Regions from separate parts of the Homo sapiens genome. Here all the other regions are linked to region 1. Evidence: fine-mapped expression QTL. A gene starts in region 1. Each other region holds a variant in brackets. All regions are shown on one strand. Distances are from middle to middle.

Region 1 (8,106 bases):
TCCACTCCTAGGTTTACAACCAAGAAAAATGAAAACTTGTGTCCACAGAAAATTTGTAAACAAATGTTCACAGTAGTATTATTCATAACGGACAAAAAGTGGAAACAACCCAAATATCCATCAATTGATGAATAAACAAAATGTGGTCTATCCTTACAATGGAATAGTATTTGGCAATAAAAAATGAAGTACTGATACATACTACATGGGTGAATCCTGAAAACATGTTAAGTAAAAAAGACGCCAGTCACAAAAGACCACATATTATATGATTCCATTATATGAGCAATCCAGAATAGGCAAGTCTGTAGAGACAGAAAGTAGATTCATGGTTGCTAAGGGCTAAAGGTGAGGATCAGGAAAGCTAGAGGAGAAATGGGGAGCAATTGCAAATGGGCATGGAATTTCTTTTTGGGATAATGAAAATGTCCTAAAATAGCTTGTGATGATGGCTCCAGAACTCTGTGTTTATACTAAAACCTTTGAATTGTATACTGCATTTGTTGTTTCTTTGTTTGTTTTTGAGATGGAGTTTTGCTCGTTGCCCAGGCTGGAGTGCAATGGTGTGATCTTGGCTCACTGCAATTTCCACCTCCCAGGTTCAGGTAATTCTCCTGCCTCAGCCTCCAGAGTAGCTGGGATTACAGGCGCCTGCCACCATGCTTGGATAATTTTTTGTATTTTTAGTAGAGACGGGGTTTCACCATAATAGCCAGGCTGGTCTCGAACTCCTACCTTAGGAGATCCCCCAGCCTTGGCCTCCCAAAGTGCTGGGATTACAGGCGTGAGCCACCATGCCTGGCCTGAATTGTGTATTTTAAATGGATGAATTGTATGGCATGTGAATTATACCTCAATAACTCTGTTTAAAAAAATAGAAAAACAGCCAGGTGCAGTGGCTCATGCCTGTAATCCCAGCACTTTGGGAGGCCGAGGTGGGCGGATCACCTGAGGTCGGGAGTTCGAGGCGAGCCTGACCAACATGGAGAAACCTTGCCTCTACTAAAAATACAAAATTAGCCAGGCGTGGTGGTGCATGCCTGTAATCCCAGGTACTTGGGAGGCTGAGGCAAGAGAATCCCTTGAAGCCAGGAGGTGGAGGTTGTGGTGAGCCGAGATCACGCCATTGCATTCCAACCTGGGCAATAAGAGCGAAACTCCGTCTCAAAAAAAAAAAAAAACAAACAGAAAAAATGACAGATAATTATGCTGAGGTCACAGCAGACCAAAAGCCCAACACAACTAGATAGCATGGGGGCTGATTAAACACAGTATTGGAATGCTGTTTTTATTCTCTACCTACTTTCCAGCTCAAACAAATAAACAAATACAAACACATCTGTGTGAATTTATACACAGTTCATTCTCTTACTGTGAACACAGATCTTTACTAGAATAATATATCTAAATTTGAGTTCTACAAATTAAATAATGAGGCAACAATAAGGTTTCCAAAGACGCTTTCAAAAGGAGAACTAAGAAAAGACTATAATTATTTAAATTAATTTCCATTTATTTTTTCGTTTTGGAAATGGAGTTTCGCTCTTGTTGCCCAGGCTGGAGTGCAATGGCATGATCTCAGCTCACTGCAACCGGAAGGCGGAGGCCTTCCAGGTTCAAGCGATTCTCCTGCCTCAGCCTCCTGAGTAGCTGGGATTTCAGGCATGCGCCACCACGCCTAATTTTGTATTTTTAATAGAGACAGGGTTTCTCCATGTTGGCCAGGCTGGTCTCAAACTCCTGACCTCAGGTGATCCACCCACCTCAGCCTCCCAAAGTGCTGGGATTACAGGTGTGAGCCACCACACCCGGCCTAATTTTATTTATTATTATTATTTTTTTGAGATGGAGTATCTCTCTGTTGCCCAGGCTGGAGTGTAGTGGCATGATCTTGGCTCACTGCAACCTTTGCCTCCAGGGTTCAAGCAATTCTCCTGCCCCAGGGGGATGGTTCTAGAATACCCCCTCAAATACCAAAATCTGAGAATGCAGAAGTCTCTTACATAAAATTGCACAGTATTTGCAAATAACCCACAAACATCCTCCTGCATTACTTTAAGCTGGGGTGTCCATTTTTTTGGCTTCCCTGGTCACATTGGAAGAAGAACAATTGTCTTGGGCCACACATACATAAACTACACTAACACTAATGATAGCTGATGGGCAAACAAACAAAACAAAAAATGCTAAAAATCTCCTAATATTTTAGTTAAGTTTACAAATTTGTGTTGGGCCACATTCAAAACTGTCCTGGGCTGAGGGTTGGACAAGCTGCTTTAAGTCATTTGTAGATTACTTATAATACCTAACACAATGTAAACGCAATGTAAGTGGTTGTCATGTTGTATTTTCTTTGTATTATTTTACTGTTGTATTATTTTTTATTGTTAGTTTTTGTTTTGTTTTGTAGTATTTTGATCCGCTGTTGGTTGACTCTGCAGATGCAGAATGCTCGGATAAGGAAGCCAACTGTACTCCCGCATACCAGCTACTTGCTTACTCTCTATTTATTATCTGTTATTCTCTATGCCTTCATTCTAGCATATGCTTCATTCTAGCATAAGTAATCACCTTTCTACATTCTGGAGTCAGGACAATATCTAGATCATTGCTCAAGAGTTCTGAACTGGGAGATTAAAAAGCTGGGCCAGCTGGGCACAGTGGCTCACGCCCGTAATCCCAGCACCTTGGGAAGTAGAGGCGGGTGGATCACCTGAGGTCAGGAGTTAGAGACCAGCCTGACCAACATGGAGAAACCCCGTCTCTACTGAAAATACAAAATTAGCCGGGAGTGGTGGCGCATGCCTGTAATCTCAGCTACTCGGGAGGCTGAGGCAGGAGAATCACTTGAACCCGGGAGGCAGAGGCTGCAGTAAGCCGAGATCGTGCCATTGCACTCTAACCTGGGCAACAAGAACGAAACCCGAAAAAAAAAAAAAAGGCTGGGGAGGTGATTGTGGGGAAAGACAGGTCTCCCAAAATGCCCTCTGTGTGTAGTTGTTCACGGAAACCACATAAACAGAAAATAGCTACAACAGCTAATTCTTACTAAGGTGTCAAGCGTTGTGCATAACACTGCCTAATGTGTGACATTAAACGTTTTCACCAGGTCAGCCACTTAATCTTCAGAAAACTGGTGGCCAACTCTGAGGTTTCACATTGACGTTTAATGGCTGTTCCTAAAGAAGTGCGTGCTTTTTAAAAAAATAGAGGATGGGAGGTAGGTTGGAAAGGGAAGATAAGCGGCAATGGAAAAATCGAGTGTGATTATTGCATTTTTATCAAATATGTCTGTCTGGATTATGTGGTTAGAATCACTGCAAATTTGGCTTCTATAAATACTTTAAAACTTTTTTCCAATGTTTTCATTATCAGATCCACTATGCAGGCTTTGAGTGGGCTGCCATTTAGTTCAGATATCAAAGTATTTTACAAGTAACTAATAGCATTTATTATCTACACGTGGAAAACTATAGCAAAGAAAGGTCAATCAAAAGTTGTGCTCTAGGTCATCAGATAAAATGAGATTAATACTGAAAAATTCTTCCACGAAGACCAGGGGTCCAGCTAAATGTGTGGTGGTGGGAAAAATGTTTATCTGACGTCCCTCTAAAGAAACCTCAGATGGGAGAAAAATGTCCCAGCCCCAGGAATGGACACATTTAGGTTTTTCCTTTTTTTTTTTTTTTTTTTTTTTTGAGACAGGGTCTCGCTCTGTTGCCCAGGCTGGAGTGTAGTGGCGCGATCTCTGCTCACTGCAACCTCCGCCTCCCGAGTTCAAGCGATTATCCTGCCTCAGCCCCCCGAGTAGCTGGGATTACAGGCGCGCGCCACCAGGCCCAGATAATTTCTTTGTATTTTTTAGTAGAGATGGGGTTTCGCCCTGTTGGCCAGGCTGGTCTCGAACTCCTGGCGATCCGCCCGCCTCGCGTTCCCAAAGTGCTGGGACCACAGGCGTGGGCCACCGCGCCCGGCGCACATTTGGGTTTTTCGTGGTCAGCAAAAGCACGACCACCCCAACACATAAATCTGGCGAATCATACGCAAATTCCCTCATGCTATATAACCTTCCACTGCTCTTCGTACCTTTGGACAGGAACATACTGTTATTTTAGGGAAGGAAATGGATCAGATACCTTGTCTCCTTCTTCTGCACTACCAAACACCCCAAATGGCGTCCCTAGCAATCAGATTCCAGAAACGTTTCCTCTCCTCTTGAAAGCCCACCGCTCCCTTCACCCAAAAAACAGAATAATCAGGGGCCTAATGAAGCTGTCCGGCCAACCTGCAGGAGAGAGCTGAGGAAGAACCACTTGCCGCGCCAGGAGCATCCCGCGCCGCACTATGGAGGCAGCCATCTTGGAGCGTACCAAAAGGAACAGCCAACGGGTTACGGACAGAGGAAGGGGCGGGGTTACAGCTCGACCTCTCGGGGCGCCCAGAATTGGACGAATCCCTTTTGTCGCTCTCGACGACAGGACCGACGCTCCGCCTCCTCGCCCCGGTTCCAGTAGTTGGTATGGTCCGAGACAGTATGGCTGCTGCATTTCGGCCCTCGAATCGAGTTCTCCTGCAGGCGCTGCAGATTTTGGTGTATCCTGGGGTGGGAGGCTCCGGCTCTGTCAGCTGCCGCTGCCCTCTCGGAGGTATCCGCGGCTTTAGCCTAGGGAAGGAGGGGAGGGATGGGAGAGAAGGGAGTGTTAGATCCCAGCTAGCATCTCTGTGGAGCAGCCACAGCTCCTAAGTCACTCACTGGCCTGGAGCGCACCCTCGCCCTCTAGTTGCACGTGGGTGCAGTGGTGACCACTGGGGGTCGTGGATACCCCCAGTGCCTGCAAATCGAAGGACTGCTGGGGTATTGACCTTGGGGCTGTAGTGCTCCCTCAGATGGGGCGACGTTCGTCTTCAGGAACATCCCTCCCGCCTTGGGTGACTTTTATTTATTTATTTATTTATTTTTGAGACGAAGTCTTGCTCTGTCGCCCAAGCTGGAGTGCGGTGGCGCGATCTCGGCTCACTGCAGCCTCCGCCTCCCGGGTTCAAGCGATTCTCCTGCCTCAGCTTTCCGAGTAGTTGGGACTACAGGCGTGCGCCACCACGCCCGGGTAATTTTTTGTATTTTTAGTAGAGACGGGTTTCACTATGTTGGCCAGGCTGGTTTCGAACTCCTGACCTCGTGGTCCACCCGCCTCGGCCTCCCAAAGTGCTGGGATTATAGGAGTGAGCCACCGCGCCCGGCCTTTTTCTTTTCTGCAGAGTTTGGAAGCAGAGGTCTTATGGAGTCTCAGTTCTGCTAACAATCTAAAAGACTTAACGGCACGTTTCTTCATTTTTCAAAACTATCCTCTAACATCTCTATGAAGAGAGTTAAATCTGAAGATGCTAGTGAGTGATAGTAAAAATGTTTGTCAGGCATTACTTTAATGTAGTTTACATACATTAATTCCTTTTCTCTAGACAACACCCAGCAAGAGAAGTACCATTCTTTTCTCCATTTACAGAGGAGGAACAAGGTTAAGTAATTTGCCCAAAGTCAGAGGGAACTGTTAGAGGTGGGATTTGAACACACCCAACAATAGAAACCTGCTCCTAACCACTTCACTGGACTGCCTTTCTGTAAATAAATAGCAACTTTTATTGTTACCTTGTTACTGCAGCTCACAGAACTCTGTTAGTGCGTGATTCTTCGGCCACGCTTGGTCCGTTTTATCTCATGCACAGCCAAGGATCCTAAAGAAAGGATGATGTTTCCCAAATCTACTAAGCTGTGATCAATGATTTCCATGTATCTCAAATGTATTTTGAGTCCACATCTGAGAGGCCTTAACCCCCTCATTTCACAGAGGACAAAACTGGGAGTTCCAGTGGTCATGCTGCAGCTTTTTCCACTACACTGTGCTTCTCCCTGGATAAACCAAAACTAAATATGCCTGTTTTGCATTTAAATGTTATTAGTTTTTTTTTTAAATGCCCTTGATACCCTTAACCGATGGCAAATGCCCATTTGTACTTCAAATCCCAACTTCCTGTCAACCAGTCCCCACACAGGTTTATCACTAGCTACGGTTAATCACTAGCTTCTTTCACACACACAAATAAAACCTGTTTTGCTGAGGATTTGCATTCTCTGGTAGTTCAGAAATTGTTTTTCCCAGGATTTATATTTGTACAGTTTGTACAGTTATATTTGTACCTGTCTAATGGATTATCTATAATAGATGTTAGAGGTAATCCAGCTCTATTCATGTTATTTGCTAACTTCTAAAACAGTCAAAATGACTTTACTTTTTTCTTTCTCTGATTTTTAGCTAAAAGATACCTACTTACAGATAATGTGGTGAAATTAAAAGAATTTCAACAAAAGAAAGTGGCTGTTGCATGTAATCTTTCTGGCACTAAAGGTAATAGAATCTATTTTGTTAATTCTGTCATTTATCTGTCATTTAAGTTTCTCTGTCTTTATCCCTATTCAGTGTCTCCTTCAGTGACTTTATTATGCCTTAGAAAAAGTTGAGACCATTTATTGTTAGTTTCATAGTGAACTCTTATATTTATCTTGCATTTCATACTTTGCTGCTACAACGTCTACAGCTCTCCTCTTATTCCTTCTCTTACGATCCCAGAGAAGTATTAAAGCTAGTGCTGCGATTGGTCTTGTCTAAATCTGTGCCATTAAAAGTGAGGTTTGAGGACCAGCGGCATCAGCATCTATTGGGTGGTTGATAGAAGTGCAGAGAGAAAGGCCCCAGATCATTCATATGCACAATAAAGTTTAAAAACTTCAGATGATTGGCTTTCAAACTTTTTGATGTAACCTTCAGTGAAAAATGCATTTTATGTTGCATCTCAGTACACACAAACATATCTATATATAAATGAAATCAAATGAAACAAAACAGTACTATGTGTGATGATACATTTGGTATTTTTCACTCTGTGCTAGAAAAGTCAGTAGGATCAAAAATTTCTTAAAAAACAAGAGAAACCTGACTACCAAACCTAGGATTTGGCTGGGCATGATGGCTCATGCCTGTAACTCCAGCACTTTGGGAGGCCAAGGCAGGAGGATTGCTTGAGCCAGGGAGTTTGAGATCAGCCTGAGCAGCGTAGACCTCATCTCTACAAATTTTTTTAAAGTTAGTTGGGCGTGGTGGTGCATGCCTGTAGTCACAGCTACTCCAGGGACTGAGGTGGGAGGATTGCTTGAGCCTGGGAGGTCTAAGGTGCAGTAAGCCATGATCACACCACTGCACTCCAACCTGTGTAACAGAGTGAGACCCTGTCTCAAAAAAAAGATAAATCTGGGATTTGCTTTGAAAAAAAATCCAGTGTGTTTGAGGATTGTAGTGTAGAGGAAACATAATTAGCAAAATATTGATAATGATTGAGGCTGGGTAATGGCACTTAGTGAGGGGGATTATTATCCTGTTCTTTCATTTCTTGGGTATGTTTGAAAATTTTTGTTATAAAAAGCTACAAACAAGAACACCACCCTAGGTCTTTTTCCCTTTCAGCACCTGAAAAATCTTGTGCATTCATTCTCTCCCTCCTGCACATAGAGTTCTTCCCAGCATTTCATACCTTTTATTGTGTGTGGATGCAGCAGTGGTCCCTGGGGGTTGTGGATATACCTCCTTGATCCTCCTTTATGAACACATCTAAGACTTTCCTTTTTTTTTTAATAACTCTTGGTGTCCCTACTGACTTTTTCAACCATAGACCCAGCTCTCCTTCCTCTCACTGCCAGATGTTTGTGAGCTCCTGATTAACACATTAACATTCTCTTTGTTTTGGTTTGTTTTTTAAGAGACAGTCTCGCTCTGTCACCTAGGCTGGAGTGCAGTTGGCACCATCATAGCTCGCTGCAGCCTCAAACTCTTGGATTCAAGCAATCCTGCTTTAGCCTCCTGAGTAACTAGGACTACAGTGCCACCATACCGCCTAATTTTTAATTTTTAATTTTTTTTTGTAGAGATGGTCTCACTGTGTTGAGGCTGGTCTCGAACTCCCAGGCTCAAGCTAGTATCCCGCCTCAGTCTCCTAAAGTACAAGCGTGAGCCACTGCACCCATCCTGATACTTTCTGCCTCCATTCCCTCACAATTCA
Region 2 (8,106 bases), 91 kb before region 1:
ATGCCAAGGCCTTTTAATACCACTAATACATCACATCCAAACTGGACACATAGCACATTCTTGCTGACATGTGAACTCATTTTCTACTGTTAGAATGCAAAGAATGCAAATCTGGCTGAGATTGGAAGGAATATTTCCCTGGCAAAGGATTTATGTATAATTTTGTGTTTTCAATTACCAGTACTGACTACAGCAGGGTTAAAACAAGTATAGTGAGAAATGTATATCCTTTGTTATAAACGTCTGGCAAAGAGCATAATGATTCACTAGACATAAGTATAAGGTGACAGGACAGACACCAGACCTGACCACCTCAGGACTGAAATGAAAGCCAAGGGATGACTCTAGCAACCAGAGTCAAGAAAAAACAAATATGTGGCTCTACGGTGACCTTTAAGCCATGGTAACAAGACAACCAATGTCCTTCTCAGGACTCACACTGGCTGTAAAAGCTGTTTGGACAGGAGCAGACACTGCAGCTGCCTGTGGGGTGTAAGGCGCATCATGTCTCCTGGAGTTCGAGCAACCTCATACCATCAAGGGTCCTAGGTGACCAAGAGGCATGAGCTTTGGGGCTGGTGGGAGAGTAGTGTTCTCGTCCTGGTAAAGTGAACACCTTAGAACTTTGAAAGAAACATCTGACCGAGATCTCATCAGCATCACACATTCACACAGAATGGTTTAAGATGGTTCCATCTCTGGTCCCCAGATTCATTTCTTGAGGACTTTTATGGGGAAAGATGCTATGTAGCCTCTCAGGACTACATGGTATTACAAAAACACCAAACATATTTAAAATGAAATTTTACCCTCTCTTGAGTTCCCACTGAGATTTTTTTTTTTTTGGTAAGGAGGTGAGGGACGAGGCAGTGGAATAGTTTTTTTTTCCTAGACAATGAACTATAAATCAATGTTAATCATATTTTCTAGTGCCTTTGGTCAGGAGCATTGAAAATGTTTGTGGTTTTGCATTTTTTCGACTTGATAAATACCTATTCTATAGACATATAGAAAGTAGGGGTAGTGGAAAGACAATGAAAACAAATTTAAAGCTCAGGTTATGGGAAACAGATGGCTAAATCTCACTGCCTTAGAGCTGAAGAACATACCGCTTCTCTACACAGCTTTATGTCTTCTGGGGAGGCAGCCACTTTCTCCATCACTTGAAGGGCTCTGTCAAGGTAGCCTGGTTTCCATATCAGAGGCATGTTGTGGTACACAGCCCGTAGCCCTTGCTGCAACTCCACCTTCCCTGTGGCCAAAAAGAACAATAAAGAATGCTCAGCCATGTCTTCCCACCATTTCTAAGACTGAGGACCTGAAGGCCCAAGTGAATGTTCACCTGGCAGCACTAGAAATAGAGAAGGATCATTTTAAATCTGTACCAACAGACTCATCTCATTCGGTGACACTTCAGATGGATAATGACGAATGTGGTAAAATTCACTGTATCCATTTTGTAATGCAAAATTACATGAACTTAGTTTTCTTCTTTCTCATTTGGGCTGAGGATGTATATATAAACCACTGGGCTGAGGGCAATTGAGAGGCTGACATATATGGCTCTAGGTAAGGATACTCTTAAAAAACAAGTCAACTGAGATACAATTTTTGTTTCAAGAACAAAATCTTCCCCAGAAAAAGAAATCTCACAGCTTTCCCACTGTGAAAATTTTGTCAACATCCGACAACTTTCCCTGCTAGGAAATGTCTGTCATTTTTTGAAATCCTTCAAAACACCCAATCCTTATGAAAAAAAAAAACCCCTCATCTTTCCCTTCTTTCCTTTGAGTTTCGTCAGTTTTAAAATAACAGAGTTCTCATGATCTTTTTGGATCTCTGGACATGAATGTTTCTCTGGGTACCTCAAGCCATCACACCTGGAGTTCAAGATGTGGATGCTAGACAGCAGGGTCTTCTGGTAGGGAGATGGCTGTCTGTATTCCTGTGGCACAGAACCTGGCTGCACTAATGACCAAAGTCACCTTGAGCTGCCCAGTCTTAAATCCACCTTCTTTTATCTTTCCTGGGAAGGAGGATTTGGGAAAGCCAGAGTAGGACACAAACAGACAAAGCTTATCAGGCGACAGCTAATTTTAGACCTTTAAGGTGCTTGGGGCTGGACTGCAGTTACATTCTGGGCAGCTGCTTCCATCAGGGCTGAGTGAGGCTGCACGGCAAATGACACAATGAGAGCAAAGAGCTTCTGATCTGATGGCTGCTATCACAAAGAACCAGGGCCTCTGCTCACAAACCACAACAAAGTACATATTCTTTGCCCTGTCACTTCTGACCAATTCAGGCTGTATGACAGTCCTGAATGCTGATCTGAAAGCAAAGGAAAATACATGTAAATCAATATCAAAAGTAGGTGGCAAATAAGGAAAAAATTATTTTTAAAAAGAGTGGTCAACTCCTTTGTTAGTCTGATAGACAGTCAATAAACTCTGAAGTTCCTGAGTTATTATATCAGAATCAGCACCAAGAATAACACACTACATTCTGTTGGCAAAGATCAACTTCAAAAGCAGTCAAACTGCTATAACTTTATGATTTTTAAAAAACAAAGGTAAGCAGAAGCAATGTATAATTGAGAGATGCCTAACTACTTAAGAGACGATGGGAGAGTAATGAAATAACATAAATTTAATAAACGTCTGTAAATCGGGACGTTACATTTAGGTTGAATCTTATTTACCCAGATTCCACACAACCCAGGTTCCGAGGCCACTCTTCAGAAGGCTTTGTCCTCTTAACCTGTCTGATTTTCAATGCAATCAGGGCACAAGAGGAAAGCCACCACTGCACCTCCTGGTGCAATCACATGGTACCCATGAACCACTCCACTTTTCCTGAAGTGCTACTACTTCTGCTCTTAGTTTATCTTCCCTTACCTGAAAACAATACCAAAGATACAAGTTCAACTCTAACTCTTAATTTCTTACCTTCTGGACTTTAGATCTAAAGAGACAGAAAGATCTTTGTTAATACTGGAAAAGATTCTACTAGCTAGTCTCCCTAAACAGGGCCAGAACATCCCTTTCTTTATCCCTTCTTCAGACTGATTACCACTGAATATTATTACCTATATCCACCAGAACTAGTTCTTGCTTTGCCAGTGATGGCAGGTTTTAAGAACCCTCTTTACTCTCTTATGGAGTAACTGTAAGGCCATCAAGGTCTATTTTTATGTCTAAAAACGAAGGCTAATTGGATTTCACTGGTAAATTTAAATCAAATTACAATTTTATTATGAACTGGAAGAATGCAACAATTCTAACCATGAAGAACAGTATTTGTAAGGATCATTTAGCTTACCAAGAAGTGCATAGCCATACAACTGGGAACTGAAACCCACTGAGTTCTTTTGTTTTAGGCCTGGAAGCAAAAGGGATGCACCAAAGTTCCTCTCCTCTTCCCACTGCAACAGAATATACTGGATCATGATCCATCTAAGCAATGAGTACTTTATACAAAAATGTGACTTTCAATGACATGAGGAAAAGAACATGTTATAGCATTAAGTAAACAAAGAAGAACAAAGCTATATATACATTATAATCCTAATTTTGGGATTAAAAGGTACTTACGTCAAAGAAAAATATAGGAAAGAAATACCCTATATGTTAATGGATTTTTGGGCAGTGAAATTATGAGTAATTTTGGTTTTATTCCCTGTATATCTTATTATTTTCCAAAAATTTGGCAATGAATAAGCGTTTCTTTTACAATCAGAAAAGCAAAACAAAACACAAATAAAGAGTACACTTTAAACCGACACTCGAGACAATCAAGATTCAACATGCTGTCAGCCCCACAGTCACTCATACTGCTGTGGCCTGATGGAACAAGCTTTTGAATTTTAAAGAATTTAGCAATGATAAGACTCCTTCAGAGTGTTAGAATAAATACCACTATTAAATTGCTTTTAGATAGATTTGTGCTTCTCAAAAACAAATTAGGCAGTCAGAAACAGTGATCGCTTCTTTCAGCCCAGGGTGCAAAATTACGCTTTAATGAAAATGAAGTCTTTAGAGACATGGGGGAAACAAAGGGCAAAAACACAAGCATTGCTACACCTGCTGCAGACTAGTAACAACGATGACTGGAGGACTTCCTGGCAATGCGGCCAGGGGAGAGCCTTGGCAACTCCCCAGTGGGATCTGTGATCTTCTTGGTGCCACATGAGTACACAGTGGACAGAGCTGGAGCCCTAACTCTGGCTTCAAAACATAGAACACTAAGCTCAGGTTGCCCTGCACTGGTCTCTGCACCAAGAGATTAGGGAGGAAGCAGAGAATGAATAATGTCTGCAGGCTGCAGTTACAACCACGGGCAAGTGAGGCACCCCAGATGTTCATAGGCACCCAAACCTCTTTACTGTAAGTAGGCTTTGTGCAATACAAGTGTCATTTCTTGAGGCTGCTCCCCAGTCTTTGAGAAAAGCAAAGACCTCAGAAGAAAAACAACGCCCCCCCCCAAGCACTTCTGCAGCACAGGTAAATAAAAGAGCTGGTAATTAAAAACCAGGTCATTTTACTTTCAAAACTAAGAAGTTTGATTTTCCCCACCTAAAACTGCATGAAAAGT[A/G]GGGCCGACAAATAATAAATAAGGAGCCTTACAAACATTTTTCCCCCTGTAGGGAAAAACATGAGCTACAGTAACAGGCTGTAGTAGGGGTTAAAGCCAAATGAACACTAAAATATCTAAGCACTAGATACCTTTGATGTGTTAGGAGTCGAGCAGGGGTGGTGACAGTGACTGGGATGGTTATACTTCTAAAGGACTTCAAAAAAGATGAATGAAAACAAACCAATGACTGTCTTAGAAATTTTCTGATCATTGTCTGGGGCTGCTGGAACTACTGCTGCTTATATGAAGCTATTCATGTGTCAACATAAATTAACAGATATCTTCCAAGCCTTTAGTTTCTTTTCTTTTCTTTTTTTCTCTTTGGAGACAGGGTCTTGCCCTATTGCCCAGGCTGGAATGCAGTGGTGTGATCACAGCTCACTGTAACCTCAAACTTATGGGATCAAGGGATCCTCCCAACTCAGCCTCCTGAGTAGCTAGGACTATAGGCATGTGCCACCATGCCTGGTTAATATTTTTTTTATTTTCAATTTTTGTAGAGATGAGGTCTTGCTATGTTGCCTAGCCTGGTCTCAAACTCCTGGCCTTAAGCAATCCTCTTGCCTTGGCCTCTCAAAGTACTAAGATTACAGGCATGAGCCACTGCTCCTGGCCCAAGCCTTTAATTTCTATTGTAGACACTATAATGGACTAATTCAGGTGTGGTTTCATCAATGCCTTCAAAGTTTTTCCATTTTATGCTTTGCCTCTTCCATTAATACAAAGCAAATCCTCATTCTCCCAACTTCCCCGCTTTATTCTCCACTTCATAGCTAGGCATCTTAAAAGAGTTGTCTATACCTCTAATCATTCTACAATCCATTCCAATTTGGTTTCCTGCTCCATTACTCATATGGAAACAAAGGTTACGATTTAGTGCCTCCCGTGCCACTAATGCATTTAATTGACTTTTTTTATTCCTCATCTTACCCTACCCCTTTGGAAGCATTCTACATAGCAGACCATCTCTTCCTGTGGATTCTGTGGTCCAACACATTCCTGATTTCCCTTCTTTTTGCTTTCTAGCTCATTTGCAAACATTTACACATGGAAGTATAAGTCTCCACAATTGTATCTCCAGTCCAGATCTTTCCATTAAGCCCCCAGTTCCTTGGTGAAATCTCGTGACTGTCTCAATTTCAAAATGCAACATGTTCAGAGTCACATTAATGATTTTTCTCATAACATCCAGTCTTTTCCCAAAGTTCCCTTTTGGAAACAACACATGGAACACCTTGCATCCAGACATATGAGTCAGAAACTGAGGAGAGAATATGTGACCCCTGCTTCCCTGCCTCATCTTGTTATTTACCTTCCAAATATGCCCATTGGCTACTCTCTAACTGCATCATATCCTGGTCTCTATGCTACCATTATCCCTTGCTGAGATTCATGGTAGTCTCTCGGATGGTCTGACCATAGCCATCCTTGCCCTGCTCTGATAGCTTATCCACAGTACAGCCAGAAGGACCTTATCAAAACACAGATTTGATTATTATATGCCCTCTGCTTCTAACTTTTCAAGGGCTTCTCACTGTTTTTAGAACGAACACAAAATGGCTTAGTATGGCCTACATTCTCCAACCCTCTCACCCCACGTCCTCCCTACCATTTTCTGTTGTAACTACACTGACTATCTTCTTCCAGCCCATTTCTGCTCACTAAGTTTTCTGCCACAGGGTATTTGGACATGTAATTTCCTCTTTTTGGACTGTTCTTCCCCTCCTTAGCCAGTTAATTACCAGTCATCCTTCAATAGTAACCTAAGAAATATTTCCTTAAGGAAGCCCTTCCTAACCAATTTAAGTTTAAAATACAGAGAAAACTCCCTATAATATAGTCTTTTCTTAGATTTCTCCTTTGCAGTGTTCATGATAGTCATAGTTTTATATCTCTGTGATTGTTTTGTTTAAACTCTGTGTTCTTCCTAAATTGTAAGCAGAAAATGTTTGCTCACCAGTACATAACTAGCACTTGCCAATGTATGGAATTTGTATGTGTTCAATACAGTATATTTAATGAATTAATAATGAATGTGGGGTATATCATAAGACTATGACACTCATCTTAGAAAGGCATAACATGCCATCTACTCTTTAGAATGTGGTCTGGACTAAATGACCTCTTCAGTTCCTACCCAAACTGGGATTTTTGATGTTTACAATTGAGGTTAAGGGCAGATGGCAGAGGCAGACTAACTGGCTTTACCAGGTGGCTTCGTTACCTACTAGCTGGGGGGTTACTCTGTAACATCTCTAGGCCCCAGTCTCCTTATCTGCCTAGGGTTGTTGTGAGAATTAAATGCATTAATACATTTAAAACAAGAACACAGCCTGGTGTAAAGTAAGTGCTACTTAAAATATCAGTTATTGCTATTGCTATTCTTAGGACAACAATAAGCAATGATTAAACATGCGAACCTAAGATCTGAAACCAAAACTTGATATTCTAGACTTTCCAAAACGGAACTGCCCTAGAGAAACCTTAGGAAAATACTGATACAAATGAAATAATTAGTATTTAATATCCCAGGTAATGGTCAACGTTAGCTGCCTCACTGCCTCTTTGACATGCCATGTCCAGCTCTCAGTGACTACCAATGACCCATTTCTGAATGTCTGAGGTGCACTCAGCCTAGCTCAAGTTTCAAAATATGCACGAGGACTTTCTTTTGAGATTCTCTCAAGTGGAAGAACCTCCAATTCCATTTGTTAGAAACCAGTAACCAAAATGTATACAATAAACACACATTCCTGGTTGTGCCTGGCCACAGAGCTGCAGACACCTTTTTCCAGCTTTTGAGAGCAAGCCCCTGCTTGCCTTTTCTAAAGTTCTTAATACTGCTTTAGGGAAGATCACTTACACTGAAGTCTGTCTTCTTTGCCAGGCAATGAAATAAAACATAGAGGGAGAGAAGTTGGGTGGAAGGCACTTCAAAGGCTTCTTGCATCATGACCTCAAAAACCACAGATAAAGCATCTAGCAGAAGATGAAAGTAAAAAAGAGAGGAAATTAGTTGTAGGTAATATTACTAAATCTCTATTTAACTATAAACACTCTTAAAACGTGGGGCATGGTTTAAAAAAATGCAGAATTAAGAAGTAAAATATGCGGGCTTAGGCTCTGGCCCTAGTTCTTCCACAAACAAGGTTTTTCCTCAGCCTTTAGCTTCTATTTTACATACCAGAACGAACTAAATCAGGTGCTACTGCACCAACGTCCTGAAGGACATTAAATAAACCACTCATTTCTCTTGGCTCCCAGTATCATCGTCATAATGATAAAATACTATTTGCTTCACCTACTTCAAGAGAATTTTGGACAGTTCAACCAGAAAATGGCTCAAACTGTGATGCAAATTTAAGGCATCATGTCTACCAGCTAGAACAGCTAAGGCATAAAGGAGACACATATATTCTCAAGGTCACCCTGACAGGCAGAGCAGACAGGCTGGTCTGACTGCCCTATTCTCTG
Region 3 (8,106 bases), 100 kb before region 1:
GCTTTTATTATTGGTCTATAAATGATAAGATTTGTGTTACAGCTTCATCACTTCCTAACTCCCTGCTTTGAGGCAGGTGTGATATACATATGTAGAAGAGAATTCTGATATGATACACCATGCTCACCCCCCTATTTTTTCCCCACAAACCTTCCTCCTGGTGTCAATTTTGGCTTACACTACACTTCGTAGAAATCCAAAGAGGCTTTCTTTGGCATTAAACTACCTCAGCTTAGGACATACGGCTTCTAGCATCTCAGAATTTCTGCTGGGAATTATACCTCAGTTGGAGGACTTTCCTTTTAACCTAATAAAAAATAATTCATTCAATAAATGTTTATAAGCCCCCTCCTCATGGTAATGCCTGTTCTGTGTGTTGGGCCACAACCATGAACAAGACACACAGAGTGCCTGTCTTCATGGAGTTTAAAGTCTAGGGCCAATCTCACCAATTAGTTCTAAATAATTAATTCAGAATCCATAAAATGCTTAAGGGGTTTAACACTCCAGGGGGTGTTGCAGACTTGCTGCAACAATGGCTCATAAAAAAAGCCTGGAGAAAGGGATAGCCTGAACTGAGAACCACTGAAATACCCGAATTGACCTGGCAGATCCAGGAGAAAAGGATTACAAGTCTCAGGGTAGCCTCCTGGAGTGGATACATATATCACAGGAAGCCAGAAGACCCAGCAGAGAACTATGTTCCCTCGAGGGCCAGGTGGCACGCCGCTCATCGAGGCCATTGGGAATGCACTGGGGAAGGGCACTGGTGAGCAGGCACCTGTGTCACCAGGTTTGGTAGCAGACTAGAACTCACAATAGAAAAGGAGGTTATGCTTGGTGTTGTTGGCAATAGGGATGATGGGTGTTGAAAATCTCCCCCCTCAAGCAATAGAGGCTAGGCGGTGGTGCTTCCTCCCTCCTTTCCTTTTGCAGATGTAGGACCTCCACCTGAAGGCTTTCCTCACCCAATCCCAATTCCACCTCCTTTCATTTTTCACAGGCTTTATCCCCCCAAAACTGCTTTCACTGTTACCTCTGACTCTGATGCTGATCTGCTTCCTGGGGGGCCTAAGTGACACAATGAGCTTCTAGAAATGTTTTTCATACCTAATTCTAAGTTCTCTGTTCCACCACAGCAGCTGCTTTTCCTTTCCTCAGTGGTTAAAATAAGAGAGTTTCCCAAAGCTCATCAGATACCTGCAGCAAAAAGAAAAAAGTAGAATGCTGCAGTATATTTTCAGGGAAGATGCACAAAAGTAAAGACAACAAAGAATGGCAAAACTAATTGTTTTCAGTGTGAAAAAAGGTTTTAATCAACTTTTTTGGTCTCGCTCTGTTGCCCAGGCTGGAGTGCATTGGCTCAATCTTGGCTCACTGCAACCTCTGCCTCCCAGGTTCAATCGATTCTCCTGCCTCAGCCTCCTGAATAGCTGGGATTACAGGTGCCAACCACCACACCCAGCTAATTTTTGTATTTTTTAGTAGAGACAGAGTTTTGCTATGTTAGCCGGGCTGGTCTCGAGCTCCTGACCTCAAGTGATCCTCTGGCCCGGCCTCCCAAAGTACTGGGATTACAGGTGTGAGCCACTGTGGTATAATCAACTTATTTTCAAGGCCTCTGACTACTTCTTGTAGAATCTAAACCAATCTTCTCACACACCTACCTGATTCCACAGCCAACGAGAAGGTCGGAAAACAGGATGCAAGGCTGGGTGCCAAGGCAACACAGCACTGAGGGGAGGATAATACCTTATCATTTTTCTTTCTTTTCTTCTTTCCACCGCCTTGCTTTTTTTTCCTTTTTATGGCCAAGGTAAGTATGGGATGTGGGCCAAAACAAGTTTAATCTGAATTGTTCATTTTAGCTTAATTTAAAGTATTTTCTCATGAACACATCACACAAGCCTCTGTGGAAAGAGGACCCCAGGGCAGCTTGAGGCACTCATATGTGACTAATTAATGCACAAAGCAGGCAATTAATTCCCTTCATTAGAGTTTTTCCCATCACTGGGCTTAAAGTGATCTTCCTGTGAACTCCCACATACATTAACTGTTTGTCTAACGACACCTTTCAGCTGTGTATTGACGGGTGTGGATGTGCCAGCCTCACTAGAATCTAAGTTATTTGAGGGTAAAATCTATAGTTTATTCATCCTTGTAAACTCCATAGCACTTGTATAGTGCCTTGTACACAGTATACACCGAACACTTGAGAGCTTGCGAAAGCAGTGCTGGAACAGACAGTAAGTCTGCTGCAGACAGCAAGCTTATAAGGGGTGGTCAGTGGTACCAAATGGAGCAGAGCATTTAAAAGGAAAAAAAAAAAAAAAGATCACTGTAGTTGATGACCATGTTGTGCAGCAGAGTGGTAAAGCTATAAGCCAAATTCTCAGCCTCTAATGAATGAACAATGAGCCAGTAAGTGTAGATACCCTTTCAAGAAGTTTGGAGACATAAGGAAGGAGACATAGCATGACAGCTTGACTGATGGCAGGGTAAAGGATTTTTTGCTGTTAAAAAGTGTTGAATAAGGTCTTGAATAAGACTGTAGACTTAGAAGAAGAAATCAACAGAGATGCTATAAGACGGAAAGGGAATGCTTGAATGTGTAGAACAGGTGGGCAGGTATGGGCCAAGGTCACAAATGAAGAGCCTAAGCTTTGAAAGGAGGGAGGGGATACCTATTATTTGAAAGTAGGAAGGATGATGGAGAGAACATCTGCTTGTAGTTCTGAGGGCAGGGCTTCGAGCTAACGCAGAACAGAAAAGCTATGGAAGCAAAAATGAGAGTCAATTAAAGGAAGGACTATTGAGTTGAAGAGAACAGCCATAATTTTGTAGAAGAATCTAATCAGCCTAATATTATGACTTTATATATCTACACTTAGTAAGTCAGAACCAAAGAGAAAATGAATGGTGGTGTTATCAGTTTCCTAGGGCTGCAGTAACAAAGTACCAAAAATGGTGTGGCTTAAAATAACAGTTCTGAAGGCTAGAACTCAGAAATCAAGGTGTCTGCAGGGCCAAGCTTTCTCTGACGGCTCTAGGGGAGAAGCGTCCTTACCCCTTCTAACTTCTGGTGTTTGCTGGCAAGCCTTGGTGTTCCTGGGCCTGTACGGTCACATGCTCATCTTCCCTCTGTGAGTCTGTGTGTGCAAATTTCCCCTTTTAAAAAAACACCAAATTGGATCAGGCTGACCCTGATGATCTCACTCTATATTTGATTACCTCAGTACAAACTTATTTCCAACTAAGGTCAGATTCTAAGGGACTGGGGATTAGGGATACAACTTACCTTTTTTAGGGAACACAATTCTACCCATAATAGATGGGTGCAAGGATGTAGGTCGAAGGCTGGCAAGTGAGCCTAGATAAAGGGAGTGAGAGAAAATGAAGATGCTAATGAGAACATGGGGATGGCTGACCATGGGGCCCACACTGGAAGAGAAGCAGATTCTGGAGACCAAGAGTTTGGGTGATGGGGTAAAGGCTAAGGATTAGCAGGCAGGAAATTACAGAGCAAGTTGGTTCAGCAGCAGTCATGGTACGAGACGAGCCTGGGAGAGTGGGGACTTCAGGATCTAAGATCTCGGATTCGTGATGAGGCTGGAGGTTTGGCTGTGACTATGGCAGGTCAGCTGCAGAAGGTAATTTGTTACTGGGAGATGATCCAGTTGAGGTAACCTCCAGAGGCCAGGGCACCAAGAGCAGTTTCTCCATCCACATGGAAGAAATATGGAAGATGACATCAGGGAAAGGGACAAAGGACAACTGTATTGGGAAGAGCCAATTGTGAAGGAAGGCAGGAGAGTATCCTATAGCTCAGGAGATAAGGACATGGGGAAAGGGCAGAATATTTGGAGGGGAAAGACTCCAAGAGTCCTGAGAAATGGGGCACAAGTGTGGAAGGAATCCTGAGGAGGAGGGAACATGGAAATTCCTGTGGGACCACAGTACAGTGGCAGAAGTGGTCTCTTTTGGTGAAGAAGAGAAGTAAAGTACATTGGGGCTGGAGAGGGAGGAAAAATGAAGGCAAAACGATGAGCCAAAGCCTTAACCAGATACTTCATGTTGTGACAGTCATTAATTTACTGGGCAAAAGTTGCCCTTTTGTTTGTGTTGAATGTTCCTCTTAATGTAATGAGAGAGTGGCTGAAAAACTCCTGTTGTTGGTAAACCAAAATGTTGGAACTGACTTTTGGTCACGGCCCTCTACCTAAGTAAGATTCAGCAGCTTTGCTAGTCTAAAGGGCCCTGTGTTGGATCCTGACTACTGCGGTTCTATATGGAGGCCACAGGCAGGGAGAGGAGCAGCAGGAGAGCTGCTTTGTTTCATAAAATGGGGACACTGGTACCTCCCTCATAGGGCTGCTTGGGTTTTCAGCCTACAGTTAAGTCCTTAATAAATATTAGTGGTGGCAGTTATCATTATTACAATAAATCCCATAGTTTAATGGGGGAGGGTTTAAAGTACACTCCTCAAAATCATAGTAACAATAATGAGTCCCTCTCCCTCCTCCCTTTCCCCAAAGATAAAGAGTACACTAACATGATCCCGGAACATTTATTTCCAGAGGCTTTTGATAGAAGAGCACAATCTTGAATAAAATTACACCACTGTACTTAAGGGCAACACTACATAGTAAGCAAAATCTGCTCTGAACCCTTTCACAGAAGAGACACTTCAGAAAGGAATTTTACATCTCCTGACAGTTTTACAACATTCATACCTCTGATGCACTTCAAGCCCCAACCCATCTCTCATTTTCTAACTTCTTTAACAGAAATGTGTGTTCACAAGTTGTGTGTGC[A/G]TGCACATGTGCCTCTGTGTGTACACAAAAGGCTCATTTTACCTACTTGATAAATGAGCTGAGACGATGTTTTGGGAAAAAAAAAATTGGAAAAAAAATGTTACCCCAACACGATGGAGAAGCCAATCCAAAAAAGCTTCATGCTAGAGCTAGCTTTCTCCTCAGAAACTTACATCCTAAAAACATCCCTATGGGTGCCTAAAAATGGAAATCCAGTGAGTTCATGGCCTTGAGTTCACTCCTGTCCTGAATTTCTCCCAGTGCAGGTCCAGAAGGGCGAGATGTGGCAGAAAGGAGAATGTGGGAATGTGTGAGTATCCCACAGCCAGCTCACAGTGCAGCTTGCACTCAGAAAGGAGACTCAGGGACACAAGGTCTCAGGATGCACAGTTCACCTTGGCCTCATGTACCTGGGCTGGGGAGAGGGAGACCATTCAAAAGCCTGTGCTTGGCCGGGTGTGGTGGCTCACGCCTATCATCCCAGCACTTTGGGAGGCTGAGGCGGGCAGATCACTTGAGGTCAGGAGGTTGAGACCAGCCTGACCAACATGGTGAAACCCCATCTCTACTAAAAATGCAAAAATTAGAAAGGTGTGGTGGTATGCACCTGTAATCCCACCTACTAAAGGAGGCCGAGGCAGGAGAATTGCTTGAACCTGGGAGTCGGAGGTTGCAGTGAGCCAAGATTGCGCCACTGCACTCCAGCCTGGGTGACAGAATGAGACTCTGTCTCAAAAAACAAAAACAACAAAAAACAAAAGCCTGTGCTTCAACCTGACTCTTCAGCCTTGGTTTCTCCCAGTACTGTCACTGGGTCTTAGGAACTTTAATGCTCATAACTAATCCCTGTGCCCCAGGAACTCCATTATGAGCCTCAAGAGTCCTCCTTAAGGTATTCAGCTGGTGACTTCAGTCTGACCACTAGCCACCTGCATAGTTCCATAGCCCTTCTTGGCATCTCGATGGGCAGTCATGGTGCCTTGCCATGTAGGGCACATAGCCTGCTTTAAGAAAAGAAGATGGGTAGAGGAAGCTGAGGCTGTTGTCCAGGCCACTGCTGAGTCCTGGCACGGGGTTGAGTGAAGTTCTTGTGAGACAGGTGGGGCCCTGGGGGACCCTATTAGGCAGATGCCTTTGCTGCTTTCTGAGCCTGGTACTCCTGCTTCGCTTGCTCCCTCTGTTGCTGTTCTCTCTGGATCAACTGTACAAGGTCTAGATGCCACTGCTGCAGATTCTGCTCATAGGTGGCGATGTCCTCTGCTTCACAGGTGGAGAGTTTTTCCTTGACAAGCTGGGTGGTCAGACTTAAAAGACCTTCTGACTCAATTTTGCCCAGAGCTTGAAGCTTAGAATGTAAGGCCTGTTGGAAACAAATGGGAAAAATGAGAAGAAAGGTAGAGAAGTGAGAGAAAGATACAAAGAGGAAAAACTAGCCCTGAGTGACTGACTTTAGATTTGAACAAAAGTTTGCTGACTCGTAGTTTAGTCCTCATTCTAGTGGCCCAGAATGAAGTCACCTGCAAAATAACCACACATTTTGCTGGTAGAAAAAAACCATTTTGTTGGGAAATGGTCATGCTGCCTTTCATTCAGGTGCTGTTAGCTGTGGTTATTTTTTTCAGCTCAGCAATTTTGCTAAGATGCACCACATGTGATTTCTCCCCTTTCACTCAAAAACAGTAAATGGAACTCCATATGCTGTGTCTCCCTGTGTAATTTCTTGTTTTAAACCACAAAGACAGCCAGCCTCTAACAAATCTATGTTTCCACCCTGACCTAACCAAACCAAGCAGCAAACACCAAAAATAAGAATTCTAATATGCAAACAAAATGGCAGAGGCATCTGATAACTGGAGCAAGCCCAACCATACATGTGCCTTCGGAATAACTGAAACAAGTATTTGCCTTTCTGGCATTCCTCTCAACAGACGGAAATCAGTTCAAGGAATAGCTCCCCTGAGTGCCTGCACCGTTAGAAGCGTCTGCCTGCTGTGCTCCACTGCATTGGGTCTTAGGAACTCTAAGACTGCAGGTCAGTCTTTATGTATTGCCTGCTTACAGCTCCATCTGAAATGGCACCTTGGTTTGGTTGGTGTTGTGCTCCTGGAGAAGTAAGTATTAAAAACATTAATCTATTTAAGTACTTTAAGATGTACTCTCTCATTAGAGAGAGGGCCACTTACGGGGCCAGCTGTAGCTTATACCACACATCCCCATGTTCCACAAACAAATGCCACTCATTGGCACAGGAAAGGAGGCTTGCTTAACAGGGTTGGGGGTGGGCAGGGTGCCTAGGCTCCAGGAGGGGCCAGAGGCCTAGTGTGAGAGTCAATCATATAAAAATGGCTCCCAAACAAATGACCTCTGACTAATAAAAATCAGGCAACAGGAAGAAAAGGAAATGTAAAACGAAAATGATCTCTCTCTGACAACGCTCTCCATGTGGGGTTTGAGGCCAACAAGACAGCTTGGGACACCAGAATGAGGACTAAACTACGAGTTGGCAAACTTTTGTTCAAACCTAAAGTCAGTCACTCTGGGCTAGTTTTTCTCAGCTTTGCTGTCATCTAACATGAGAAAGGTAGTCTCTAGCATCCAGAGCTCTTGCGAGGAGAAATGCACTGGTGCCCAACATGTAGTTAGTAGTCAATAAATACTTGCCTTTTTAAAATTTTCATAAAAATACATTTGTAGAGGAATGAGGGCTGAGAACTTAATGCAGGCACAGGTTTCTATTCTCTGAGGCAAAGTATATAAGAAACAAGAGAAGGAAGTTTTAATTTTTAAGAATGGTATGGCAACCTTGGTCAATGTGAATGCAATGAATCATAATATATGGGGCTAAGGAGATTTTTTTCTTTAGCCTTTGTAAATACACAAGATTAAGCAAAGAGCCTGAAGGGGCAGGCATGCAAATTCTCATCCCAGCTATACTGCCAATTCTCTGGGTACCTTGGGAATATCGATTAACCTTTCTTTCTCAGTTTCAAATTATAAGAGGGAAGTTGAGCAATGACTTTACAGAAGTACTGGGAGAAATTGCTGCTAAAAATACAACAGGCTCCTCCTTACAACACTGGGAATTAGGTTCTAATTACTGAAAATATTTAAACATAATAATCTAGCAAAGTTTACATCTTATCAGTACCAAAATGACACAAGTTACACAAAACAAGTGGGAAAGTTTTTTGCTGTACCAAGAATTCCCATTCTGACAGCATTTTTTCCCCCTTTGCACTAGACAAGAATCAAAGCAGCTAAGAAGCCAAGAGTTCAAACACTGAACACGGTT
Region 4 (8,106 bases), 25 kb after region 1:
CTATAGCCATACTCCCAACTTTTGAGTCCTTTGTATAGTTAAATAGGTTGTTTGGTGCTAGTTGTTTTTCCAGTTTTGTCTTTGTTGGCTGAAGTGAGTATTTTAGTAAATTCTTTGGAGGAATGATATCCCCTGAGTTCTTGGTATTTTAAATTATTTTATTTGCCTGTTGTTTTTGTACTTGAACTACAGTTTGGCCAGATTTACAATTTCAAGGTGACATTTTCTTTTCTTGAGGTACTTTTAGGCATTGCTTTTCTGTCTTCTAGTATGGAATATTGGAGAAATCTAGTATGGAATGTGGAGAAATCTAACGCCTGCCTGATTTTTTTCCACTTGATTGACGTGATGTTGTTCATTTTTCTCATTTCTATCTTCTATATCCATGGAAATATTTTTCAATTAGGGTTTCTTCATCGGCCAGTTATTTTCTTTTCTTTTCTGTTTTTTTTTTTTTGAGACAGAGTCTCACTCTGTCTCCCAAGCTGGAATGGAGTGGCACGATTTCGGCTCACTGCAACCTCCGCCTCCTGGGTTAAAGTGATTCTCCTGCCTCAGCTTCCTGAGTAGCTGGAATTACAGGCATGCGCCCAGCCAAATTTTTGTATTTTAGTAGGCGTGTGCCCAGCTAAATTTTTGTATTTTAGTAGAGACAGGGTTTCACCATGTTGGCCATGCCCAGCTGCTTTTTGTATTTTAGTAGAGACAGGGTTTCACCATATTGGCCAGGCTGGTCTTGAACTCCTGACCTCAAGTGATCTGCCCGCCACAGCCTCCCAAAGTGCCGGGATTACAGGCGTGAGCCACTGTACCAGTTATTTTCTTAATTTTGTTCTACTGTGTTCCTTTCCTCTTTTTAAAAATATCATCTTTATGAGTGTCATGTGGTGGTTCTTTTTTGACTATTCATCATTGAAAAGTGTAAGTTTCAGGCCTAACACTGTGGCTCCTGCGTGTAATCCCAGCACTTTGGAAGGGGGGAGGATCACTTGAGGCCAGGAGTTTGAGACCAGCCAAGACAACATAGGGAGACCCTGTCTCTACAAAAAATAAATAAATAAATAAAACAGGTGCAGTAGTACCTAGTACATGCCTGTAGTCCTTGCTGCTCAGGAGACTGAGGCAGGAAAATAGCTTGTGCCCAGGAGTTTGAGGCTGCAGTGAGCCATGATTCCACCACTACCCTCCAGCCTGGGTGACAGAGCAAGACTCTGTCTCTAAAAAATAAAAATTCTGGCCAGGTGCAGTGGCTAACACCTGTAATCCCAGCACTTTGGGAGGCTGAGGCGGGCAGATCATGAGGTCAGGAGATCGAGACCATCCTGACTAACACGGTAAAACCCTGTCTCTACTGAAAATACAAAAAAAAATTATCCAGGCATGGTGGCGGGCTCCTGTAGTCCCAGCTACTCTGGAGGCTGAGGCAGGAGAATGGCGTGAACCTGGGAGGCTGAGCTTGCAGTGAGCTGAGATTATGCCACTGCACTCCAGCCTGGGCAACAGAGCGAGACTCCGTCTAAAAAAAATAATAATAAAATAAAATAAATAAATAAAAATAAAAATTCAAAAATAAAAGAAAAACGTGTTTCTTTTAGACCGGTCATTTGTAGATTCATGTCAGAGAAAGAGAGAACAACAGAGCGGGACACCAGAGCACTGTTCTAGACTAGCAGGATTTTTCTTCATATAACCCAGAGTTTTGTCTACAAGTATGCACAGGCCTCATTTCTTTTAAGTCAACAGAAGTAGGCACTGAGGTGGTTTTTGGTACGCAGTCTCTTCTCTGCTGCTGCTGTCTTAGGAACATACTGTTTCCTATGAGTATGTCTTGCCTATGGAAACGCTTGACTAGCCTCATCTCTGCCACCACAGGATCCACGGAAGTTCTCTTTACTAGTCCTGCGCTCTGTTCTCATCATTGTAAATAGGAATTTAGGTTTTGTACTTCAGGTTGTGCCCTTACCTTTGAGAGCTGTACTGTTGTAGATTCTTTGTGAGATATAGAGCACTGTCTGCCTCTGACTGCTTTCTCCTGAACCCTGCCAGCCTCCATTTCCAATGTTTCTGGCAGTGTTTCCAGCTGTGCTGTGGCTTGAGGTTTCTATGTTCTAATTATGTATGTCAAAGACAGGCTTTGCACTTTGTTCTTCATTCCTATTTTTTTAGAAGCTGATTCCAATAGGAGAAGGGGAAATACCAACTTTATGCCTGCATCTTAAAAACTGGACTCAGGCAGGTTGTTAAAACATTCAACAATATGCGACTGGATGGAGAATTTTATGGAATGTTTAGTTTTGATTTCCGAAACATTTTATCTTTGTGGACTTCAAAACCCTGAGGTCACCTTAATAGGAATATACTGCCCTCTCTAAGTGATCTTTTACAATAACATTAGTTCCTATGATATGGAATATGATTTGTTTCTCTTCCTTCTAGAATGAGATGGCAAAAGCTGTGTCCATTTTTTCTCAAATCATGAATCCAGAAAGCATAGCCTGCATTAATTTAAATGTAAGTGATTTCTTTATGGTTTAAGGTAAGCCTTGAAATGTATTATAATAAATGTATTATAATAAAATTATACCTAAATTTTTTAGCTGTATACAATGACTTGCTCTCCCAAGGTTTTCATTCAAATCAATAGTCATTTATTGAATTCCTCTCTGAAAATTACAGTATCACCCTTGTAAGAAGAGTCAACACAGCTGTCGCTTCCAGGAGTTTGTAAACAGGTTGGAGAGAGGTAGATATGCTCATATATAAGACATGGCTAGATGCTGAAGACATGAGACGTGGCTAAGAAAGCTGTAGATGTAGGGAGGAGGAGGGGATGGAGACAGATCCTCCAGGCCCTTTACCAAGCCTTGAGAGAAACCCATGTGCCAACTGCGTCTTATTGGTAGTACCTAACTCATGGCATTGTTGCAATTAATGAGCTTATATACTTATGGTACACAAAATAGTGCCTGACATGTGGTAAGCATTCAGTAAATGTTATCTATTGTCATTCTTATTATGTTGCCAGTATGCCCATGGTCCTCTTCCCCATTAACTTACCTGGGCCACCTGGGTCACTTATTTGGGACCTTGTGGTCTGGGTCAGCAAGTGGCTGCACACATATCACCAAGACATGCAAAACCTTAATCCCTAAAACTAAAAGCATAGGAAAAAAAATTATCTCAGATTCACCAGATTCACGCTAATAATAAAGTTTGAGGCATATTACTACTCCCAGAGTTTGAGCAGTGTGTCACAAAACCTTCCTGGACCAATTATAAAAGACTGTCTTGTTATTAAGGACACCATAGCCCCCATTCAGCCTGCCCATATTGAGACTCCTTGTATACTGTGTCTACTTGTGTGGGGGGAGTTGCAAAAGAAAAAAACTTTCAGGAGCTTATAGTCTCCTGAAACAGTCAGAGGGTTGAGATGAAGAAAACATTTTCAGAAAAATGGAAATGTGTAAGCATTAGCATGACACAAACTAGGAAAACAAGTCACAATCAATGGAGTATTCCAAGATGAGTAGATGAAGGGGGTCGGGTTGGCCGGCAGGAGCAACGTGAGGGGCCCTTAGGGCGGGAACCTACTGAGCAGTGCTCTAGAGGAGGACAGGACTGTGGGGTTGGAGGGAATGAGGTGGAGGGTGTTATTTGTTGGGATATTGGTTTTGGTGGAGCATCTATTTAAAAGAATATGAACTGTGGCTGGGCACGGTGGCTCACACCTGTAATCCCAGCACTTTGGGAAGCCAAGGCAGGTGGATCATGAGGTCAGGAGATCGAGATCATCTTGGCCAACATGGCGAAACCCCATCTCTACCAAAATACAAAAAATTAGCCAGGCATGGTGGCACTTGCCTGTAGGTCCCAGCTACTCGGGAGGCTGAGGCAGGGGAATTGCTTGAATCTGGGAGGCAGAGGTTGCAGTGAGCCAAAATTGCGCCACTACACTCCAGCCTTGGCGACAGAGCAAGACTCCATCTCAAAAAAAAGAATATGAACTGTGAATTGTAACCACCTCTTACTAGCTCTGAGTCCTTAGGTTAATTTGCCCCTGGAAACCCCCCAATTTCCTTTGATCTGAAACAGTAATAGTTATTGGGGGAACCTGCCCCCAATAGTCACGTAGGTTCTTTTCTATTTTCCCTAAGTGTCGGCCAGTCTGAGAAATAAAGGGACAGAGTACAAAAGAGAGAAATTTTAAAGCTGGGTGTCCGGGGGAGACATCACATGTCGGCAGGTTCCGTGATGCCCCGTGAGCCATAAAACCAGTAAGTTTTTATTAGTGATTTCAAAAGGGGAGGGAGTGTATGAATAGGGTGTGGGTCACAGAGATCACGTGCTTCAC[A/G]AGGTAGTAGAATATCACAAGGTAAATGGAGGCAGGGCGAGATCACAGGACCACAGGACCAGGGCGAAATTAAAATTGCTAATGAAGTTTCGGGCATGCATTGTCATTGATAACATCTTATCAGGAGACAGGGTTTGAGAGCAGACAACCGGTCTGACCAAAATTTATTAGGTGGGAATTTCCTTGTCCTAATAAGCCTGGGAGCGCTACGGGAGACTGGGGCTTATTTCATCCCTACAGCTTCGACCATAAAAGAAGGCTGCCCCCTGAAGTGGCCATTTCAGAGGCCTACCCTCAGGGATGCATTCTCTTTCTCAGGGATGTTCCTTGCTGAGAAAAAGAATTCAGTGATATTTCTCCAATTTCCTTTTGAAAGAAGAGAAATATGGCTGTGTTCCGCCCAGCTCACCAGCAGTAAGAGTTCAAGGTTATCTCTCTTGTTCCCTAAACATTGCTGTTATCCTGTTCTTTTTTCAAGGTGCCCACATTTCATATTGTTCAAACACACATGCTCTACAAACAATTTGTGCAGTTAATGCAATCATCACAGGGTCCTGAGGCGACATACATCCTCCTCAGTTTAAGAAGATGACGGGATTAAGAGATTAAAGACAGGCATAGGAAATCACAAGGGTATTGATTGGGGAAGTGATAAGTGTCCATGAAATCTTAACAATTTATGTTCAGAGTAAAGACAGTAAAGACAGGCATAAGAAATTATAAACGTATTAATTTGGGGAACTAATAAATGTCCATGAAATCTTCACAATTTATTTTCTTCTGCCATGGCTTCAGCCAGTCCCTCCATTTGGGGTTCCTGACTTCCTGCAACAAATAGTTGCTATCTTTTTGTTGTGGGGATTAAAATAAATTATGCATATAAAATAGTTAGCATAGTGCCTGGCAGGTAGTCTGTTCAATGAATATTTGCTAATACTAATAGTATTTTTTTGACATGAGTTAAATTAAAAGGAATATTCATTTGTACTGAATCCTAGAACCTAGTGAATAGGAATTATGCATAACTCCAAACTTCTGAAAGAGTCATACTTAAAGATAATAATGCTTTTCAGTTCTGCCCATAGTAGTTATCCTCAAATGTCATCCCACACCAGTGCCCAGGTGACTTTTCAGAGAATGACTAGATGAGTATTTATGGTAAATTTTGGAGAACAAGGTCAGGCAAGAAGTGTGCAATAAGAATTCCTCATATTGGACCTCAACTTTACTTTTCAAAATGCTTTTACATGAGAGAAAGGTGAGCCCAAGGAACCAGAAAGATGGAGAGAGTGATAACAGAGAACTTGAAAAAATGAAATGGGTTTGTAATGGAAGAAACAAAATACTAGAAAAATATCGACAGAGACATTTTAGTTTCAAAGGGCATAAACTTGGAGGGCATGAACTCAACTATATACACCTGGTAATGGATTTGATATGAACTGATGAATGCCATAAGAAAGCAGGGAAGTATGAGGGCTCAGAAATGAGTTTATAAGGCATTAATGGTGAGGCAGAGGAAGCACCAGAAAAGAGAGGGAAGGACTTGCAGCTGTGTAGAAATCCAAGCGGCTGAGAGCCCTCCCTGTCTTAGCCTGCTGCAGGTAGCTCCTGTTCATCTTGGGGGCTGAAGCAGAAACTACAGGTCTGAGCAGGTGGGTCAGCCTGAAAAGCTCACACGCTAAAGCAGGTCTGGGAGGCCAAGGTTGGCAAAGGTCCAGAGTCCAGAAGGTCAGGTCATTTGAGCAAGTGATACCAGTAAGCTAAACAGACTGGGAAGCCTGGTCTTCCAGCAGGCATACTATGTCTCTGACTTATCTGCTTCCTACTGGATATGGACAGCTCTGGTATTCCAGTATATAATTGCTTCTGAGAGAGAGAATGGCCTTCAGATGTCCCATCTATCATGATGGGACAGAATAGAACTGCTGGGATTAGCAAGATACTCTTCCACTAAAGCTAAAGCTATCCAAGTCTCTGATAACATCAGGAAGGAAAGAAAGGAGAAAAGGGGGAGAAGTGTTTTACTTGGATCATTGATCACTTTTCCTAGAATTGAAGCAAGGTTGAGGGTTTCAGTAAGAATTGGTGATAAGAAATCAAACAGTGAGGTAAGCAGGTTTTAATTTATCTAAGGTGTCATGCTTGGTACTTTAGATTTGTTATACAACTCTATCAAAACAATTTTTCTCCACATTATAGATGTGGAAAATGAAGATTCAAGGGTAAGTAAATTACCTTAGTTCTCCCAACTAAATAAATAGCAGAGTCAGGGTTTTAACACCAACAACTCTGTCTGACTGCGAAGCCTAGGGTTTCCCCGCCACTCCAGACCTACAGAGATGAAAAAGGTGCGTCTCTTTTATCCAGGACTGGGATTAGTGGCTCCTCTTGAATAATAAAAAGAACACAAGACTGGATGTCAAAAACCATGATCCCACTAGTGCATGTAAGCCACCTCTGGATTTAGATTTCTCATCTCCTTCCATCGTGGCCTATCTCTCACAGTTACAAGAATCTGGTAATGGGCTGGGTGCGGTGGCTCATGCCTGTAATCTCAGCACTTTGGAAGGCTGAGGTGGGTGGATTATTTGAAGTCAGGAGTTCAAGACCAGCCTGGACAACATGGTGAAACCCCATCTCTACTGAAAATACAAAAATTAGCTGAACGTGGTGGTGTGTGCCTGTAATCCTGGCTTACTTGGGAGGCTAAGGCAGGAGGATTGCTTGAACCTGGGAGGCGGAGGCTGCTGTGAGTGGAGATCACACCATTGCACTCCAGCCTGGGCAACAGAGCGAGACTCTGCCTCCAACAACAACAAAAATAATCTAGTAATGATTTGATTTTTTTTTTTTCCCCCAAATGAGAAGGTGCTTTGGTGGAGCTAAACATGAGCCTGCTGAGCATGAGGCTGTCCATTCCCAATAAGAGGAGCAATGCAGGGCATGATGAAAAAAGTGTGTGCTTGCCCACCAGGCAGCAGGAACAGCTCCTTTCCTCTGAGGGCTAGAAAGGAAAGTCAGCCTATGGATGCAGTGGAATGGGCGTGTTTCAGGCAAGGACTCCATAAGTAACTTTGAAGTGATACTGAGTATGAATCATCCTCTCTGAACTGCGTCACAGAATTACCCACTGTCGGGAAACTTAAAGATAGTTTCAGTGTTTAAAAATTCTCAGGAAATTCTTTCAAATGTTCAACCCAAATTTCTCATGTTGCAATATAAGCCTATGTCATCTTCCTCGGGGATGATGAAAAAGATATGGTTGCCATTCTCAAGTTTAGTAATCTTTTAGATTCTAGGTCTCTGTTAGTAGAGCACATTTTAAAAAATGACTGCATGGACCTTAGCTTCTCCAAGGCTGACTCATCTACTTGAAATCCTTAAAGGCAGCTTATTAATTATTGAGAGATGGAAACTGACAGATAGGCTGAGTAGTGTCTGTTTAGTCAGTATTCACAGAAATCAATGAAACTTTTTTCTGATATACTTTAAAAATTAATGCTTTATGCTAAAATCTTTTGCTACTGTCAACTGAAATTTGAACTTAACAAATTTTCTCCCTGACTTGATTGTTTTATTAAATTGCTCCTGTTGCCAGTGTGACCCAGAGGGCCCAGTTTCCTATTTTCCCAGCTAATACGTGATACATACTGCAATGATTTAACAGATCTCATCAAAACACATGTATGTTGACTCTGCCTTTTCAGTCTGAATTTAAACTTCTCAATCTCAAACATAGACCCTCTTTAGCA

Direction of the effects. Positions count from the first base shown, and alleles are read on the strand shown. Sizes are in standard deviations (SD) of each study's normalised expression. Not every link is listed here.
For the expression in prefrontal cortex of the gene that starts at base 4,377 in region 1, A is the high allele of the variant in region 3 and G is the other (moderate effect, 0.52 SD a copy in GTEx).

What was found. PIP is the estimated chance that this variant, and not a neighbour inherited with it, causes the effect.
Region 2: its variant is fine-mapped to the expression of MRPS27 in fibroblasts (GTEx, PIP above 0.99).
Region 3: its variant is fine-mapped to the expression of MRPS27 in prefrontal cortex (GTEx, PIP above 0.99). The same link has a PIP of 0.9 or more in anterior cingulate cortex, cerebellar hemisphere, cerebellum, cerebral cortex, nucleus accumbens and skeletal muscle.
Region 4: its variant is fine-mapped to the expression of MRPS27 in whole blood (TOPMed, PIP above 0.99).

What each region holds. Positions count from the first base shown.
Region 1 is chr5:72,315,864-72,323,969 of GRCh38, forward strand. MRPS27 (mitochondrial ribosomal protein S27) reads right to left here and starts at 4,377. Exons shown (of 11, transcript NM_015084.3): 1 at 4,286-4,377. The coding sequence starts at 4,358. It overlaps PTCD2 (pentatricopeptide repeat domain 2), which reads left to right and starts at 4,510. Exons shown (of 10, transcript NM_024754.5): 1 at 4,510-4,646; 2 at 6,309-6,401. The coding sequence starts at 4,520. RefSeq lists enhancers at 3,428-3,969, 3,970-4,510, 4,109-4,438, 4,499-4,708.
Region 2 is chr5:72,224,948-72,233,053 of GRCh38, forward strand. MRPS27 (mitochondrial ribosomal protein S27) reads right to left here. Exons shown (of 11, transcript NM_015084.3): 7 at 7,496-7,611; 8 at 3,319-3,421; 9 at 1,110-1,252. Among named protein-coding and RNA genes, the nearest start is that of MIR4803, 60 kb to the left of the region's middle. The variant A/G (reference allele first, on the strand shown) is at 4,591.
Region 3 is chr5:72,214,975-72,223,080 of GRCh38, forward strand. It overlaps MRPS27 (mitochondrial ribosomal protein S27), which reads right to left. Exons shown (of 11, transcript NM_015084.3): 11 at 4,429-6,174. The coding sequence ends at 5,935. Among named protein-coding and RNA genes, the nearest start is that of MIR4803, 50 kb to the left of the region's middle. The variant A/G (reference allele first, on the strand shown) is at 4,815.
Region 4 is chr5:72,340,526-72,348,631 of GRCh38, forward strand. It overlaps PTCD2 (pentatricopeptide repeat domain 2), which reads left to right. Exons shown (of 10, transcript NM_024754.5): 8 at 2,437-2,511. Among named protein-coding and RNA genes, the nearest start is that of PTCD2, 24 kb to the left of the region's middle. The variant A/G (reference allele first, on the strand shown) is at 4,352.